Regions from separate parts of the Homo sapiens genome. Here region 2 is linked to region 1. Evidence: fine-mapped expression QTL. A gene starts in region 1. The other region holds a variant in brackets. All regions are shown on one strand. Distances are between the middles of the regions.

The links. PIP is the estimated chance that this variant, and not a neighbour inherited with it, causes the effect.
Region 2: its variant is fine-mapped to the expression of SIPA1 in whole blood (TOPMed, PIP above 0.99).

What each region holds. Positions count from the first base shown.
Region 1 is chr11:65,632,966-65,641,278 of GRCh38, reverse strand. SIPA1 (signal-induced proliferation-associated 1) reads right to left here and starts at 3,178. Exons shown (of 16, transcript NM_006747.4): 1 at 3,097-3,178; 2 at 1-448. The coding sequence starts at 357. PCNX3 (pecanex 3) reads right to left here. Exons shown (of 35, transcript NM_032223.4): 28 at 6,923-7,153; 29 at 6,638-6,741; 30 at 6,159-6,306; 31 at 5,831-6,061; 32 at 5,476-5,750; 33 at 4,972-5,105; 34 at 4,590-4,888; 35 at 3,840-4,513. The coding sequence ends at 4,301. It overlaps MIR4690 (microRNA 4690), which reads right to left and starts at 4,969; the gene lies at 4,910-4,969. RefSeq lists enhancers at 2,546-2,615, 3,567-4,357 and a silencer at 2,966-3,335.
Region 2 is chr11:65,665,391-65,673,715 of GRCh38, reverse strand. It overlaps RELA-DT (RELA divergent transcript), which reads right to left. Exons shown (of 4, transcript NR_183625.1): 2 at 8,173-8,270; 3 at 7,499-7,585; 4 at 1,998-2,293. Among named protein-coding and RNA genes, the nearest start is that of RELA-DT, 6.5 kb to the right of the region's middle. The variant G/A (reference allele first, on the strand shown) is at 3,662.

The DNA.
Region 1 (8,313 bases):
ATAGTGGGCAAACCATCGAGGCTCAAGCACTGGTGGGAAGGCAGGCTCTGGTTCCTCTGCTGGCAGCCCCAGCAGTGCCAGCGGGTCAGTGAAGAGCCGGGTGGAAGTGGCTGCAGGTCGGCTGGCCTCTTCGTGGCTGTGGGCACGGGCACGGGGGCTGGCTGGCGTGGGGGGCCTGGCCTCGCCTGCATCGCTGCCGCTGCGCAGGAGTGGGCCCCGGACTGGCCTCGGCTCGAAGGTGTGCGGTGTCAGCGGGGGCCTTGCTGGCTGGCGCAGCTTGCGGGCAAAGAGGTCATCTGTGGACGCAGGGGCCATGCCCCGCCGAGGGCTCCCCACACCGCCGGCCCACATGGGCATGCTCTGTGGGCCTGACTCTCCGGGGGCTGGGCCGCATTGGCGGGCACGGGTGTTTGGTGCCCAGCCTGAGGTTGTGGCAGCAGTTCCTGCCCTGAAGGAGGAGGGGGCTGCTCAGAGGGGCCTGGGCAGAAAACAGGAACCCAGGCCCCCAGCCTGGTCCTCCACCACCCGTGTTGGCTTCCGGCCCCCTCCGAGACCATCAAAGCTGCTTCCGCTTTCCAGGCCACTTCCTTGTCTGCCTAGGGCTAAAGTTTCCAGCCCCCTCCCCAGCTTAGCTGGGCAAGGCTAGAGGCTGGGCTGTTGGGTCTTGGTCCTGAGGGTCCTGGAGCCTGGGCAGCCCTGGGACTGCCAGGGTCCCCCAGTCGCCACCCACACACCTTAGCTTTGGCCTGGGCCCAGAGTAAGGGTCCCACCAGGACCTAGCCCAACCGGACAGATGACTTGTATTGGCTGGGACGGGAAACCCAGGGGCCACTGGTGTCTGGGTCCTGCCCACTTAACAAAGGGAGGACGTCCTGTCCCCAGAGACCTTCCTCCTTGCCCCTCCCACTTCCTTCAGGGTCCCTGGAGAGCTGATCACCCAGAGAGGTCTGATCTCAGTGCCCTGGACCTCAAGGCCTCAATACCACAAGGACACATGGGTTCCCAGGGAGGCAGCGGCAGGGCAGCAGGAATGGCAAGAGGACTTCCTTCAGCACAGGAAGTAGCCCCAACTGTGGGCCCAGCCCTCTGCCAGGCCCCCACATCCTGAGGAAGGTGCTGGGGTCACAGCAGCTGTCATGGGACCCCAGTCACCCTGCCCTGAAGGACAGGCCAACTCACCTTCTTGCAGGCTACTGTGCCCAGGCTTGGGGGCAAGAGGAGTCACAATGACAGGGACCCATAGGGACCTCTGCCTACCTGGTCTCACTGATGCAGACAGGGAGGTCTGAACCCCATGTGACAGATGGTCAGATGAGGTCCAGAGGAGATGCTCTTGCCTGAAGCAATTCCGTGTCAGAGCTAGGATGTGAGCCTGGGTCTGCCCATCTCCAGGCCCTAAGCAGGGCTGCACCTGCCCACTGCTGTCTGTGTGCGTAGGTTTTGGGGGGTGGGTGTTGGGCTGAGGTTCAAGGTCTCACAGGATGCAAGATTGAGACACCCAAAGCCCCAGGGACCTGCTAAGTGCGGAAACGTGACGCCAGAGGCAGGTGCAAATGGTGGTGTGAGAACTTGAGGGAAGCCACACCCAGGCAAGCCCTGGATGGAGTAGGCAGTGAGGACAGGGAGCTGGGGAACCTCCACTGGGGGTACAGGCATCTAATGGTGGGTCTTCATGCAGCATCCAGCAACATCATGCGGGGCTGGGCCGGAGGGGGGTGGAGGAGGGGCTCCACACACCCTTCGTCTGGGGCCTCCAGAACCAAGCAAGAGTCGGCTCCCCAGCCCAGGTGCTTCTACCTTGATTTCTCCTGAATAAACTCCCATGCTGACCTTGAGCCTCTGTTTTCTCATCTCTAAAATGGGGTTAACTGGCCGGGTGCGGTGGCTGTGGCCTGTAATCCCAGCACTTTGGGAGGCCAAGGCGGGGGGATCACCTGAGGTCAGGAGTTCAAGACCAGCCTAGCTAACATGGTGAAACCCTGTCTCTACTAAAAACATAAAAATTAGCCGGGTGTGGTGGTGCGCACCTGTAGTCCCAGCCACTCAGGAGGCTGAGGCAGGAGAATCGCTTAAACCTGGGAGGCAGAGGTTGCAGTGAGCCGAGATCGCGCCACTGAACTCCAGCCTGCGGGACAGAGTGAGACTGTCTCCAAAAAAACAAAGAAAAAAATTGGGTTTAATTATTTCTGTCCCCTCCCAAGGCTGCTGAGAGACTGAGAAGAATGAGGTGAGTGTCGCTAGCTATGTGTGTGTGTGACGGGTGTAGCCCCTGGCTCCATGAGCCAAGCTCTGGGCACATTCAGCGCTCGGGCCTGGGCTATAGTGTGTGAAGGAGTAGGAGGGCATGAGGGAGGGGGTCTGTGCAAGCCCCGCTCCTTGTGGGCTGAGCTCTGCACGCTTGGAAGTGAGATCTGTGCATGTGTGCACCCAGCCTGTGCGCTGCCTCTTGCTGTGGCCCAGTGCCAGGCTCTGGCGCTGCCTTGAGGGGTGTTCTCGGGCTCTGCCCCCCACCCTGAAGCTTCACACAGGGTCCATTGAGGCTAGGACATTCCTCCGGGCCTGTGTCACTAGGGGTGGGGGGAAAGGGCCGGCCCCGCCCCCACAGATCCGGAAGGCCTGGCTGCCCCAGGAGGAGGAGCTGGCCACTTCCCAGCACATCTGGAGGTCATGACCCCATTTCGGCTGCCAGGGGGCGCGACAGATGTTTCCTCCCAGGCCAGGCCAGGGACTGGGGTGGAGGCCGCCTAAGAAGAAGAGGAGCCTCAGAATAAGGGGGAGCCCCGCACACACTTGCAGTGTTGAGGGGGAGGGGGTCACAGTGCCGCCACCAGGAGTCAGGAGCCGCCGCTTCCACTCACCGGCTGGCTGGCCAGGCTAAGCCGTCACACAGAGAGAGTAGGAACGGCTGGTCAGAGACAGGGGGCTGGACATATTGACTCGGGACTGAGCTGGAGCCCGGAGGGAAGTTGGGAGGGTGCTGGCGGCGAACGTGGCGAGGACCCCACTCCCATACACATCACCCGGGCCCACGGCTAGGCCACCTCTCCCCTGTCGGGCCCGACAGTAGTGCCTCCCGTCCCCTGCTCCCGCCAGTACCTCTGGGGCTCCCGCCCAGCCGCCGCCGCCCGCGCTGGGGTCCCGCTGCCGCTCTCCCGCTACCGCTCCCGGCGCCGGCTCCGCCTGGGGGCGGGGCCATGCTGGGAGGCGGGGCCATGCCGGGAGGCGGGGCCGGCCGGGAGCTGTCTGCGGCGGGAAGCGCAGCAGCGGGGATTCCAGGCCTGGCGGAGGTCAGCACCGAGCAGTGCTCATTCTAAGGCCATTTCCTCTCCTGAGAAACTTGTGCCTGCCTTCCAGACCAACCGGGAGGGCTAGCGGAGGCCACCTAGCGTCCAGCTCCCGGCCAGCAGGTGCTCAAGAGTCTGCCACTATTTTATGGAGCACTTGCTAAGCACTGGGCCCTGGGCAACCATTCCACTAGCGCGCTCTCATTTATTCTAAAAACACCTTAGATAGGTGTCATCTCTTTACGCCCTGGAGCAGCTGAGGTGCAGAGAAAGGCTTTGGCCAAGAACAAGCCTGATAAATGTAGGAGCCACCAGACCTGGAAGTCTGACCATATGGTGGGAAATGGCAGACAATACCCTTCAGATAAAGGCTTGAAAAGGGAGCAGCCATGCGGTGAAGAGGACCCGGTTCTACCTGAACCCCACCTTGGTCTGCCCTTGATCTCTACTAGACTTCAGCCCCACATCCTTCACCCCTCTGCGTGCTTGTCCATCCCAACTTAGCCGCCTGTACTATCATGTACCCATTCCCAGGTAGAAAAAGAAACTGCCAACCAAAATCAAAAATAGTGTTATTAATTCTGATGTCTCCGAAGCACAAAAAAAAAAAAAAAAAAGAAAAGAAAAAAAAGGAAAGAAAGAAACCACCCTTCCCACAATTCAGGCCCCAGGTCCAGGCCAAGGGGGCCACACCTGCAGGCAGTGCAGGCCCAGGGGCTGAGGTGGTCCTGGCCACAGGCTCCAAGTGGGACCAGCCCATGGTTTGGCTCTTAGGGCCTGGCTGGGAGGCTGACTGCCTCCATCTGGGGAGCCCAGGCCCTGGACTGGGGATGAGAGAGATCAGGGGTCAAGGTCAGAGGTCTGGGTCACTCAGTTTTGGTACTCTGGCCAAGGCAGCCAAAGGTCAGGGTTCAGACATGTAGGCCAAAGCCACTCAGTTCTGTGGTCCAGCAGAGAGGCAGCAGAGCAGGTCCGTTACTGAATCCTAGGAGGTGGTCCAGTGGGCGCCAGGTAGCTCAGTACTGGTGTTCCAGCAGGGGCTGGGCTGCCGGGCTCTCACGCTCCTCAATAGGGGCAGGCCAGTCGCCCAGGGCACCCATAGGTGTGCCACTCTCAGGGGCACTGCTGTCCAAGCAAGGAATGTCCTGGGAAGCTCTGGGGGGTGAGGCCTCAGTGCTGACATCGGGGCTGAGGCTGAGGCTGAGGCTGAGGCTGAGGTCTAGAGGCGCCTGGGGGAGGGGGGAGAGGTTGGCGGGTGAGCAGGCCTTAGCCTTCTGGGACCCAACCCTCCCACAGGTGCCTTACCTGAGATTTGGGGGTACCTCCTTTGGGGCTCCCTGAGGCTGGCTCCCCGTCAGATCCTCCCAGCCCCTTCCGGCCCCCCAGGCTCCACTTTCCACTGGGGCCCTCAGAACTGAGGAGACCCGGGCCAGGGGGCCGTGAGGTCCGGGGACCCTCTGTGGGGATAGGCGATGCAGGGGGTGGTCCAGGGAGCCGAGGGGGAGGCCACTGCAGCAGAGGTGGGGGCCGCCCATCACCAGAGCCACTCAGGGAGGACCGCGGCCCCCAGCCAGGGCCTGGTGGGAGGGGTTGGTCACCATTGCCTGTAGGAGACAGATAAGACAGCAGAGGCCTCAGCTGGGCTGCACTCCTCACCCACGGGTTCAGCCCAGCCTCGCCTGCTCACCTGCCGTGTTCTCAGGTGTGGGGTGTGCCACGGGGGGGTTATTGCTGAGGGAGGTCAGGCCACCGCCCCCACTACAGTCTGAATCATCCACGTTCCCGCCACTATTGCAGCCGGCGCCACAGCCCTTGTGAAGCCTGGGGGTGGAGAGGTAGAAAAGGGATCAGGAGGGACACGGCTGAGGCCAGAGGCCTCACAAGCATGAGTCCTCAGCCCCAGGACAAGTCATCTAACACCTCTGAGCCCCAGGATCCTCCCCTCTAAGAAGCTGCCACCTACTTTGCAGAGTCTTTTGAGGGTGCGTTGTCAACAGTGCTTGATGACTAAAGGCCACTGTCAGCTCTGGGGGTAAGGTGACATCTAGGAGGGGCAGGTCAGCTCTGGGAGGGGGTCATCTCTCGGGATTCAAGCCCTGGCTCCAGCACGTCCTCCCTCTGAGACCCAGGAGGGACGTACTGCACCTCAGCTTCCTCCCGCGCCACACGTCACCCCTTCCCGAGGCCTCACCTCTCCCAGGTGCGCAGGAGCCAGTGGGCAATGGCACCCAGGCTGATGGGGCCACCCCACAGTGCCCGTAGCTGGGGGTGGCTGCCAGCCAGCGAGGTGGTGAGAGGCGACACGTAGATGGGGTAGCCCAGCGGCTGGTCACAGGAGGAGTTGATCATGTTGCGAAGCGCCTGCTTGGCGTTCTGGATGCTGCCACGCTCGGGGTTGCGGTTGCGCAGGAACACCAGCTCCTGCTGCTGCCCGGCCCACAGGCCGCGCACGCACTCCCGGTTCACCTGAGAGCCACACGCCAGGGTCAGGGGGCCGGCCCAAGGGGGTTTGGGGCAGGGCTTAGGGCAGGTGGGGCCGGCCCAACCTTGATGACTCGGAAGCTGAGGTGGCGCCGGTTGAGCATGATGATCTTGTACTCGTCGGAGGCATCATCCAGGACATGGCGCAGCGCCAGCAGGGAGGGCGTGTTGCTGAGGATGGCGCTGCGCCATGCTGGGTCACCCTCATGTGAGATGACCAGCCGCTCCTCGTTGGCCGCAATGGCATCGTATAGGGCTGCTGGCTCCTCATATTCATCTGGGGACGTGAAGTGGTCCTGGTAGAGAAGACGGGAACAGGGGTCAGTGGCCCCTGCCCTGGAGAGAGGCTTCATCCCCCACCTGCCCATGCTGCTGGGCACACCCCTCCCCAACCTGGTGAAGCTTGAGGGCCATGCGAACCCCAGGCGCCACAACGCGGTGAAGCAGGTCCATGTCGGCAAAGACCCACTCGTCACGTGGGGAGGTGATGCGAAAATCCCCCTTGAACAGGGCGTGCAGGCCGTAGAGGAAGGGCTCCAGGCTAAGTGGGAGGAAAAACAGGGAGGGGAGAGAGGGGTGTCGAGGACCCAGGGGTAAGGCTTCAGAGTGATCCAAGCAGAGGCCTTTCCTCACGCTGAGCCTCAGTTTCCCCATCTTGACAAAGAGGCCAATCTCTGCCCATGTCTCTCACAGAGCACTGAGGAGCAGGCAAGGTCATGACCAGGAAGTGCCCTGCCCGTGGGAGAAGAGGTACCCCAACAGGAAGGGCCACTGCAGTTTCTGTGGCCACTGTGGCCAGAGACCACAGTGCTCTTCGTGGAAGAGGTGGGGTGGGGACGGCAGTAGGCCCCGCGGGACACCCGAGCACTCACCTTGCAGACATGCTGTGAGAGGCTGTCCCCAGGGCCCGGCGGCCCAGCACACACAGGCCAAAACACAGCGTGACCAGCGGGGAGTTCCAATCCTGGTCCACGGGCTGTGGCATAAGGACCCCCATCCCAGAGCCCAGCTCAGACCTGGGACAGGGACCTTGGAGTGGGGGCTGGGGCTCAGGCTAAGGGAGGCTCAGAGTGAGAGGAAACCAAATGGGGAGAAGGGGAGCAGGGAAGCCCAGGTCCCACAGCCCCAGGTGGCAGCCTCAGGTAGTGGAGCCTGACCTGGCTGCGCCGGGAGGCGCAGTACTGGATCCACTCGAGGTGCACAGCACAAAAGGAGGGCAGCGAGAGGCCAGACAGGCGGAGGTCATAGTCCTCATCCACACTCAGCGAGAAGGTGGGATCCGAGTCGGCATAGCCGGGCACCCGCACAGGCCTCAGGGCTGCCGTGATGCCCTCATGGCTGAGCCACACCTCCAGCTTTGGTGAGCGGCTCACGTAGTAGATGATGCTCTGGGAGAGGAGGGGCAGGCGTCAGGCCGGGGTCCCGGCCCTGGCCACTGGAGGAGAAAGCATGGAGGTTCAGAGGCTCCTCCCCAAGACTGAGCTGAAGTCCGCTTTCTGGGATGCCCCGCTCCTAGAGCCATCTCAGCTCTCAAGAGCAACCAAGCAAGTTGGCTCCTTCCCCTAGACCAGGGAGGAGTGACAAAGCCGCCAGGAAGCACCCACTTACAGAGCAGGAAGTCCTGTGCTGGGGCTAGCACTCACAAGCAGCATCTGCCTGCCTCTGCCCTAGAATATGCCCCGTTTGTATGAGAAATTGAGGCTCAAACAAATGGCAGCCCCCAACGAGAACAAGATCATCACACTCAACATTTACCACCTCAGCTTCCAAGTCATCAAGGTGGAGCTGGCCCCACCTGCCCTGAACCCTGTCCCCCACCCGCCTCTGGCTGGCCCCGACACTATGGTGTGGCCCTCAGGTGAACCTTCAGTGCCTGTGCAGCACGTGGGCCAGGTAGCAGCAGGAGCTGGTGTTCCTGCACAAACATAACCCCGAGCGCGGGAGCATCCAGATGTCACATGGGCAGGGGGCGGGGAGCGAGTGGGGCAGAACAGACTGAACTGCCGCCTGAACCCCGGACCTTCCCCATCATGACATTGTGGGATCCAGATCTCGGGGCCGGAAGGGCAGGCTGAAGTAGTGGGCCTGCCTCAGAGTGCCTGGGTCACAGGTCCCTTTAGGCAGCTGAAGCATGACAGCCATCAGGCCTCGCCTCAGAAAAAAGCCACGGGCACATGTGGTACCCAAAGCTGGGGGCTCCTGGACCTCTTGTTAAAAGGCCCTGTTGGGCAAAAGTACAGGAGCTTTGGAAGACAGGTAGCTGGCATGGCCAGGATGCACGGGCGGGTTAAGGCCGGCAGGGCAGCCAGTGAGGTGATGGGGATTCCATGTGCCACCCTAAGATGGAGCTAATGGGGCAGGCCCTTTGCCAGGGCAGACCCGCTCCAGACTGACTTTCTTGCCCATAGCTCGCCTCTACAATCCAGGCACCACCAGAGCTGCTAAAAAGACCCAGAAAAGAAAAGCTTCAGCCAGACAGGGTGGCTCACACCTGTAATCCCAGAACTTCGGGAGGTGGAGGTGGGAGGATCGCTTGAACCCAGGAGTT
Region 2 (8,325 bases), 32 kb before region 1:
ACCAGCCTCGGCAACAAAGCGAGACCTCATCTCTACTAAAATTTTTTTAAAAGATTAGTGGGGTGTTAGCTGGGCGTGGTGGCTCATGCCTGTAATCCCAGCACTTTGGGAGGCTGAGGTGGGTGGATCATAAGGTCAGGAGATTGAGACCATCTTGGCTAACACGGTGAAACCCCATCTCTACTAAAAATAAAAAAAAATAAAAAATAAAAAATTAGCCAGGCATGGTGGCGGGCACCTGTAGTCCCAGCTACTCAGGAGGCTGAGGCAGGAGAATGGCGTGAACCTGGGAGGCGGAGCTTGCAGTGAGCTGAGATCACGCCACTGCACTCCAGCCTGGGTGACAGAGCGAGACTCCATCTCAAATAAATAAATAAATAAATAAATAAATAAATAAATAAATAAAAATAAAAATAAAAAAATTAGTGGGGTGTTATAGTGAGTGCCTGTAGTCTCAGGCCTCAGTCTCCTCAGTCTCCTCTGAAGACTGAAGGGTGAGGATCCCTTGAGCCCAGAAGTTTGGGGCTACAGTGAGCTATGATTGCACTATTGCCCCAGTCTGGGCAACAGAGCAAGATCCCATCTCAAAAAAAAAAAATTAGTTACCTATAGGGGAAGGGAGACAGCAGGTTGGAGAGGACAGGGATAGAAACAAGACTTCTTTTAATATATCTTGTTATATAGATTTGACTTTGGAACGATATAATATTTCACATCATTATGAAGAAAAATAAAACTTTAAAAAGCAATTCCTAAAAAGGGAAAATAAAACTATGTATCAATTTGCTGGTATAACTTTATGGAGATTAACTATTCAAAGAGATTCAAAACAAAGTTATCTGACTATCATCCCTAGTGGGCTATAACCTAAGGACAAGAACTACAAAAATATATTTTCAGAAATCTTATTATGTTGAGTCATAAGTTTTATGAAAAATAAAAAAAGAAAAAAGAAATCATTATGGAGGTAGAGTTGGTATCATTATTCTGAAACTGTTTTGTATACAGTGTGAGATAAAGCAAATGAGTAATGGGTTGGTGTCACTGAGAACTGAGGCTGGGTGCAGTAGCTCATATCTGTAATCCCAGCACTTTGGGAGGCTGAGGTGGGAGGACTGGTTGAGCCCAGAGCCAAGGAGTTCAAGATCAGCCTGGGCAACAGAGCAAGACCCCATTTCTAAAATTAAATAAAAAAACAGAGAAAGAATTGAGATTTTTTAAATTGTGGTTAAATATATATAACATAAAATCTACCATGTTACCCATTTATAAGTGTGCCACTGAATGGCACTTAGTACATTCACACTGTGTGCTACCATCAATCACCACCATCCTGCTCCAGAATCTTTTCATCATCCCCAACATAAACTCTGCATTTGTTAAGCATTAACTCACCATTTCCCCTTCTCTCCAGCTTCTTGTAATGGGTATTCTACTTCCTTTCTCTATGAATTTGACTATTGTAGGTATCTCACATAAGTAGAATCATATAACATTTGTCCTTTTGTGTCTGGATTCTTTGACTCAGCATGTTGCCTTCAAGGCTCCTCAATACAGCATGTATCAGAATTCCCTTCCTTAAGGCTGAATAATATTCCCTTGCATGTATATACCACATTTTGGGGTTTTGTTTTGTTTTGTTTTTGAGATGGAGTCTCACTCTGTCACCCAAGCTGGAGTGCAGTGGTGTGATCTCAGCTCACTACAACCTCTGTCTCCTGGGTTCGCGCAATCCTCCTGCCTCAGCCCTCCAAGTAGCTGGGATTACAGGCGTGCGCCACCACACCCAGCTAATTTTGTATTTTTTTTTTAGTAGAGACAGGGTTTCGTGGGGTTTCACCATGTTGGCCAGGCTGGTCTTGAACTCCTGGCCTCAAGTGATCCACCTGCCTCGGCCTCCCAAAGTGCTGGGATTACAGGCATGAGCCACCGTGCCCGGCCGCATTTTTTTAATCCATTTGCATTAATCCGGGATCTCCAGAACAGAACCAAACAGATACAGATATAAGAGGCGATTTATTATGGGAATTGGATGACAAAGTTATGGAGGCTGAAAAGTCCCACAATCTGCCATCTGCAAGCTGGAAGACCTGGAAAGCCAATGGTGTAATTCATTCCAAGTCCAAAGACCTGAGGACCAGGTGAGCCAATGGTGTAATGTCTCGGAGTCTGAAGGCCTCCAGGAGCTCTGATGTCTGAGAAGTTGGATGTCCCAGCTCAAGAAAGGAGAGAATTCACCTTTTCTTCACCTTTTTGTTCTATTTGCGCCCTCAGTGGATTCGATGATGGCCACCTATGTTGGATAGGGTGGATCCTTTTACTCAGTCTGATTCAAATACTAACCTCTTCCAGAAACACTCTCACAGACATACCCAGAAATAATTTTCTACCAGCTATCCGGGTATTCCCTGGGCTGGTCAAGTTGACACATGAAATTAACTATCACACTGGTCATGCGTCAATGGACATTTGGGTTGTTTCCGCCTTTTGGCTATTGTGAATAATGCCGCTATGAACACTGGTGTACAGATATCAATTTGAGTTCCTGCTTTCAGTAGTTTTGAGTACTATGAAATTTCTGGATCATGTGTTAATTCTGGTTTAATTCTTTTGAGGAACCGCCATACTGTTTTCCAGAGCGACTGCACCATTTTACATTCCCACCAGCAATTCACAAGTGTGCCAATTTCTCCACGTGTTCTCCACATCTCCATATTTCTCAGCAAACAGCTGTTACCTTATTTTTCTGATAACAGCCATCCTAATGGGTGTGAAGTGGTATCTCTTTGTGTGTTTTTTTTTGTTGTTTTTTTGTTTTGTTTTGTTTTGAGATGGAGTCTCGTTCTGTTGCCCAGGCTGGAGTGCAGTGGCGCGATCTCGGCTCACTGCAAGCTCCGCCTCCCGGGTTCACACCATTCTCCTGCCTCAGCCTCCCGAGTAGCTGGGACTACAGGTGCCCGCCACCATGACCGGCTAATTTTTTGTATTTCTAGTAGAGATGGGGTTTCACCGTGTTAGCCAGGATGGTTTCGATCTCCTGATCTCGTGATCCGCCCGCCTCGGCCTCCCAAAGTGCTGGGATTACTACAGGCGTGAGCCACGGCGCCCGGCCTATTATTAGTTCTTTATATGTTCTAGGTATTAATCCTTATCAGATATGTAATTTGAAATATTTCCTACCATTCTGTGGGTTGATTTTTTACTTCAGTATATTGTATTTGATGTACAAAAGTTTTTAATTTTTATAAGCCTAATTTATTTTTTTCTTTTGTGGTCTGTGCTTTTATGTTGTATCCAAGAAATCACTGCCAAATTCAATGTCATGAATATTATACAACATAAATGATAACATATAAACAATAAAAACGTAAATAATAACATATAAGCAATCAAAAACATGGGGCACTATGTTTTTTTCTGAGTTTATAGTTTTAGGTCCTACATTTAGGTATTTGGTCCCTTTTTAGCTCTTTATTTTATTTATTTTTTTTTTTGAGACAGAGTCTCGCTTTGTCGCCCAGGCTGGAGTACAGTGGCGCGATCTCGGCTCACTGCAAGCTCCACCTCCCAGGTTCACGCCATTCTCCTGCCTCAGCCTCCTGACTAGCTGGGACTACAGGCACCTGCCACCGTGCCCGGCTAATTTTTTTTTGTATTTTTA[G/A]TAGAGACAGGGTTTCACCGTTTTAGCCAGGATGGTCTCGATCTCCTGACCTCGTGATCCGCCCGCCTCAGCCTCCCAAAGTGCTGGGATTACAGGCGTGAGCCACCGCGCCCGGCCCCAGTTCTTTATTTTTTTGAGACAGCGTCACACTCTGTCGCTTAGGCTGGAGTGCAGTGGCATGGCTCACTGCTGTGAACTCGAACTCCTGGGCTCAAGCAATCCGTCTCAACCTCCTGAGTAGCTGGGACTACAGGCATGCACCACCATGCCCAGCTAATTTTTTTCTTTTTTTTTTTTTTCTTTTGTAGAGATAGGATCTCACTATGTTGACCAGGCTGGTTTCAAACTCCTGGGCTCAAGTGATCTTCCCGCCTTGGCTTCCCAAAGTGCGGGAATTACTGATGTGAGTCACCAGGTCCAGCCATTTGAACCATTTTGAGTTAATTTTTGTATATAGTGTTAGGTAAGGGTCAACTTCATTCTTTTGCATGTGGATACCCAATTTTCCCAAAACCATTTGTTGAAAAGATTGTCCTTTCCCCCAGTGAATGGTCTTGGCGCCCTTGTTGAAAATCATTCAGCCGTATATGGAAAGGTTTTATTTTTATGGGCTCCCTATTCTGTACAATTGGTCATATGTCTGTCTTTATTTTTTTTGGAGACAGAGTTTCACTCTTGTTGCTCAGGCTGGAGTGTAATGGCTCAATCTCGGCTCACTGCAATCTCCACCTCCCGGGTTCAAGCGATTCTCCTGCCTCAGCCTCCCAAGTAGCTGTAATTTCAGGCATGGGCCACCATGCCCGGCTAATTTTGTATTTTTAGTAGAGACGGGGTTTCTCCATGTTAGTTAGGCTGGTCTTGAACTCCTGCCTCAGCCTCCCAAAGTGCTGGGATTACAGACGTGAGCCACCACGCCCGGCCTATATGTCTGTCTTTATGCTAGAATCACACTGTTTTGATTACTGTAGCTTTGTAGTAAGTTTTGAAATCAGGAAGTATGAGTCCTCCACCTTTGTTTCTTTTTTTTAAGATTGTTTTGGTTATTTGGGTCCCTTGAGACTCCATATGGACTTAATTTAAGAGTGGACTTTTCTATTCCCTCAAAAGAAAATCAAGATTTTTGACATGGGAGAAACATGTAAAGTGACTAAGGTTAAGTTAAAACCCTGTAATTCTAGCTGGGCGCGGTGGCTCACACCCGTAATCCCTGCACTTTGGGAGGCTGAGGCACGTGGATCACGAGGTCAGGAGTGTAAAACCAGCCTGGCCAAGATGGTGAAACCCCGTCTCTACTAAAAATATAAAAATTAGCCAGGCATTGTGGCAGGTGCCTGTAATTCCAGCTACTCAGGAGGCTGAGGCAGAGAACTGCTTGAACCCACAAGGCAGAGGTTACAGTGAGCCTGGGCAACAGAGCAAGACTCCATCTCAAAAAAAAATAATAATAATAAATAAATAAAATTTAAAAACCCTATAATTCTAAATTTGAATATGAAACATTAGTATGAACTCCTGATGCATTTCGTATTTAAAAAAAATTACAGCCAGGTGCGGTAGCTCACGCCTGTAATTCCAGCACTTTGGGAGGCCAAGGCAGGCAGATGACAAGGTCAGGACAGGAGATCGAGACCATCCTGGCCAACATGGTGAAACCCCGTCTCTACTAAAATACAAAAAAATTAGCAGGGTGTGGTGGCGCGTGCCTGTAGTCCCAGCTACTCAGCAGGCTGAGGCAGGGGAATTGCTTGAACCTGGGAGGCAGAGGTTGCAGTGAGCCGAGATCGCGCCACTGCACTCCAGCCTGGCGAATGAGCAAGACTCCATCTCAAAAAAAAAAATTACCAGCTAGGCTGGGCACAATGGCTCATGCCTGTAATTCCAACACTTTGGGAAGCTGAGGCAAGAGGAGTGCTAGAGCCCAGGAGTACAAGATGAGCCTGGGCAACATAGTGAGACCTCTTCTCTACTAAAAAATAAAAAATTAGCTGAGCATGGTGGTGTGTGCCTGTAGTCCCAGCTACTGGGGGACCTGAGGAGGGAGAATCACTTGAGCCTAGGAGTTCGAGCCTGCAATGGGCTATGATCACACCACCACTGCAATCCAGCCTGGATGACAGAGCAAGACTCCCATTTTTTAAAAAATTACTGGCTGGGCATGGTGGCTCACGCCTGTAATTCCAACACTTTGGGAGGCCGAGGCGGGCAGGTCACTTGAGGTCAGGAGTTGGAGACCAGCCTGACCAACATGGAGAAACCCTGTCTTTACTAACAATACAAAATTAGCCGGGCGTGGTAGCGCATGCCTGTAATCCCAGCAACTCGGGAGGCTGAGGCAGGAGAATCACTTGAACCCGGGAGGCGGAGGTTGCAGTGAGCCAAGATCATGCCATTGCACTCCAGCCTGGGCAACAAGAGTGAAACTCTGTCTCAAAAAAAAAAAAAAAAAAAAAAAGTACTAACTATTCACCGAAAACATCTACAATGACTGACTCAGTAGCAATAAGTATCCGAAGTACTCAAGCTGTAGTCTTTAAATATCATTTCCTACTAAGAGAAATCAGGACTCCTTGGAAAGCTGTCTGATTCCAGATCTGGGGCAGAAAATTTACTAGATGAGTCTAGAAATATCTTTTCAGGCCAGGCGCTGTGGCTCATGCCTGTAATCCCAGCACTGTGGGAGGCCAAGGCAGGTGGATCACCTGAGGTCAGGAGTTCGAGACCAACCTGACCAATATGGAAACCCCATCTCTACTAAAAATACAAAAATTAGCTGGGCGTGGTGGCACACTCCCATAATCCCAGCTACTTGGGAGGCTGAGGCAGGAGAATTGCTTGCACCCGGGAGGCAGAGGTTGCAGTGAGCCGAGATTGCACCATTGCACTCCAGCCTGGGCAGTAAGAGCGAAACTCCATCTCAAAAAAAAAAAAGGAAAAAGAAAAGAAATATCTTTTCATACCAAACAGCAAAGAAGCTATCACAGGCTACTGTAATTGCTTTTTTAAAATTATTTTTTTAATAGACATAGGGATCTTGCCATGTTGACCAGGCTGGTCTTAAACTCCTGGCCTCAATCAGTCTTCCCCATTCAGCCTTCCAAAGTGCTGGGATTACAGGTATGAGCCACCAAGACTCATATATTGGAATTGTGTCAAAAGGACTGAAGAACAACCAACTTGAAGAAGTTCTCCCTAACCAAAGACGAATAATTTGAATTTCAATAACTATACTTGATTAAAACACAGCTAATATATTTAAATCCATGCATTCATTAAGATTTTAAAAAACTCAGCCGGGTTTGGTAGTTCATGCCTGTAATCCTAACACTTTGGGAGGCTGAGACAGAAGGATCGCCTGAGCTCAGAGGTTCGAGACCAGCCTTGGCAACATAGCAAGATCTTGTGTCTACTAAAAATTAAAAAAAAGAAATTAGCTGAGTGTGGTGGTGCACGCTGTTAGTCCTAGCTACTTGGGAGGCTAAGGTGGGAGGATTGCTTGAGCCCAGGAGTTTGAGGCTGCAGTGAGCAACGAGTCATGCCACAGCATTCCAGCATGGCGACAGAGTGAGACCCTGCCTCAAAAAATTGTTTTCTTTTTAATTAGCTGTGTGTGGTGGTGAGTGCTTATAGTCCCAGCTACCTGGGAGGCCGAGGTAAGAGGATCCCAACTGATAGGGGCGTTGGTGGGAGAAAAAGTAGGTTTACTGATTTATTCTGAAAGCCAGCAAGACTGAGAGGACGGTGTACTAGCGTTCTAAAGTACCATTTTAAGTCAGTACAATCTTAGGCTCTTTCTATGTTAAGGGCAGGGAAGAGAAGGAGGGTGTGGTCAAGAAGTACCCCATGGCAGACATCTGGGCAGCAGCGAGGGTCTGAGGAGGTTGGGAACTTCTTTGTCCTTGGTCCAGTCACAATGCTCCTATAAATCTTTAAGAAAACATAGTTGTTTACATACTTCTTTAACCCCAGACTAAGTTTTAAAAACTACATGATTGCTGTTTTTATATATTACTCAGTGCTCTAAAGCTTATGGCAGCAAAAAATTAGAAGTCCAAATGCCCATGGCTGGGCACGGTAGCTCACGCCTGTAATAGCACTTTAGGAGGCCGAGACGGGCAGATCACCTGAGGTCAGGAGTTAGAGACCACCCTGGCCAACATGGTGAAACCCTGTCTCTACTAAAAGTACAAAATTAGTCAGATGCAGTGGTTCATGCCTGTAATCCCAACATTTTCAGAGGCTGAGGCAGGTGGATCACCTAAGGTCAGGAGTTTGAGACCAGCCTGGCCAACATGGTGAAACCCCGTCTCTACTAAAAATACAAAAAGTTAGCCAGGCATGGTGGCAGGCACCTGTAATCCCAGCTACTCAGGTGGCTGAGGCAGGAGAATCACTTGAACCTGGGAGGCAGAGGTTGCTGTGAGCCGAGATTGTGCCATTGCACACAACAAGAGCGAAACTCTGTCTCAAAAGAAAAAAAAAATACAAAATTAGCCGGGCATGGTGATGCATACCTGTAATCCTAGCTACTCAGGAGGCTAAGGCAGGAGAATCACTTGAACCTGGGAGGCAGAGGTTGCAGTGAGCCGAGATGGTGCTATTGCACTCCAGCCTGGGCCACAAGAGAGGAACTCCATCTCAAAAAAATAAAAATAAAAATGCCTATC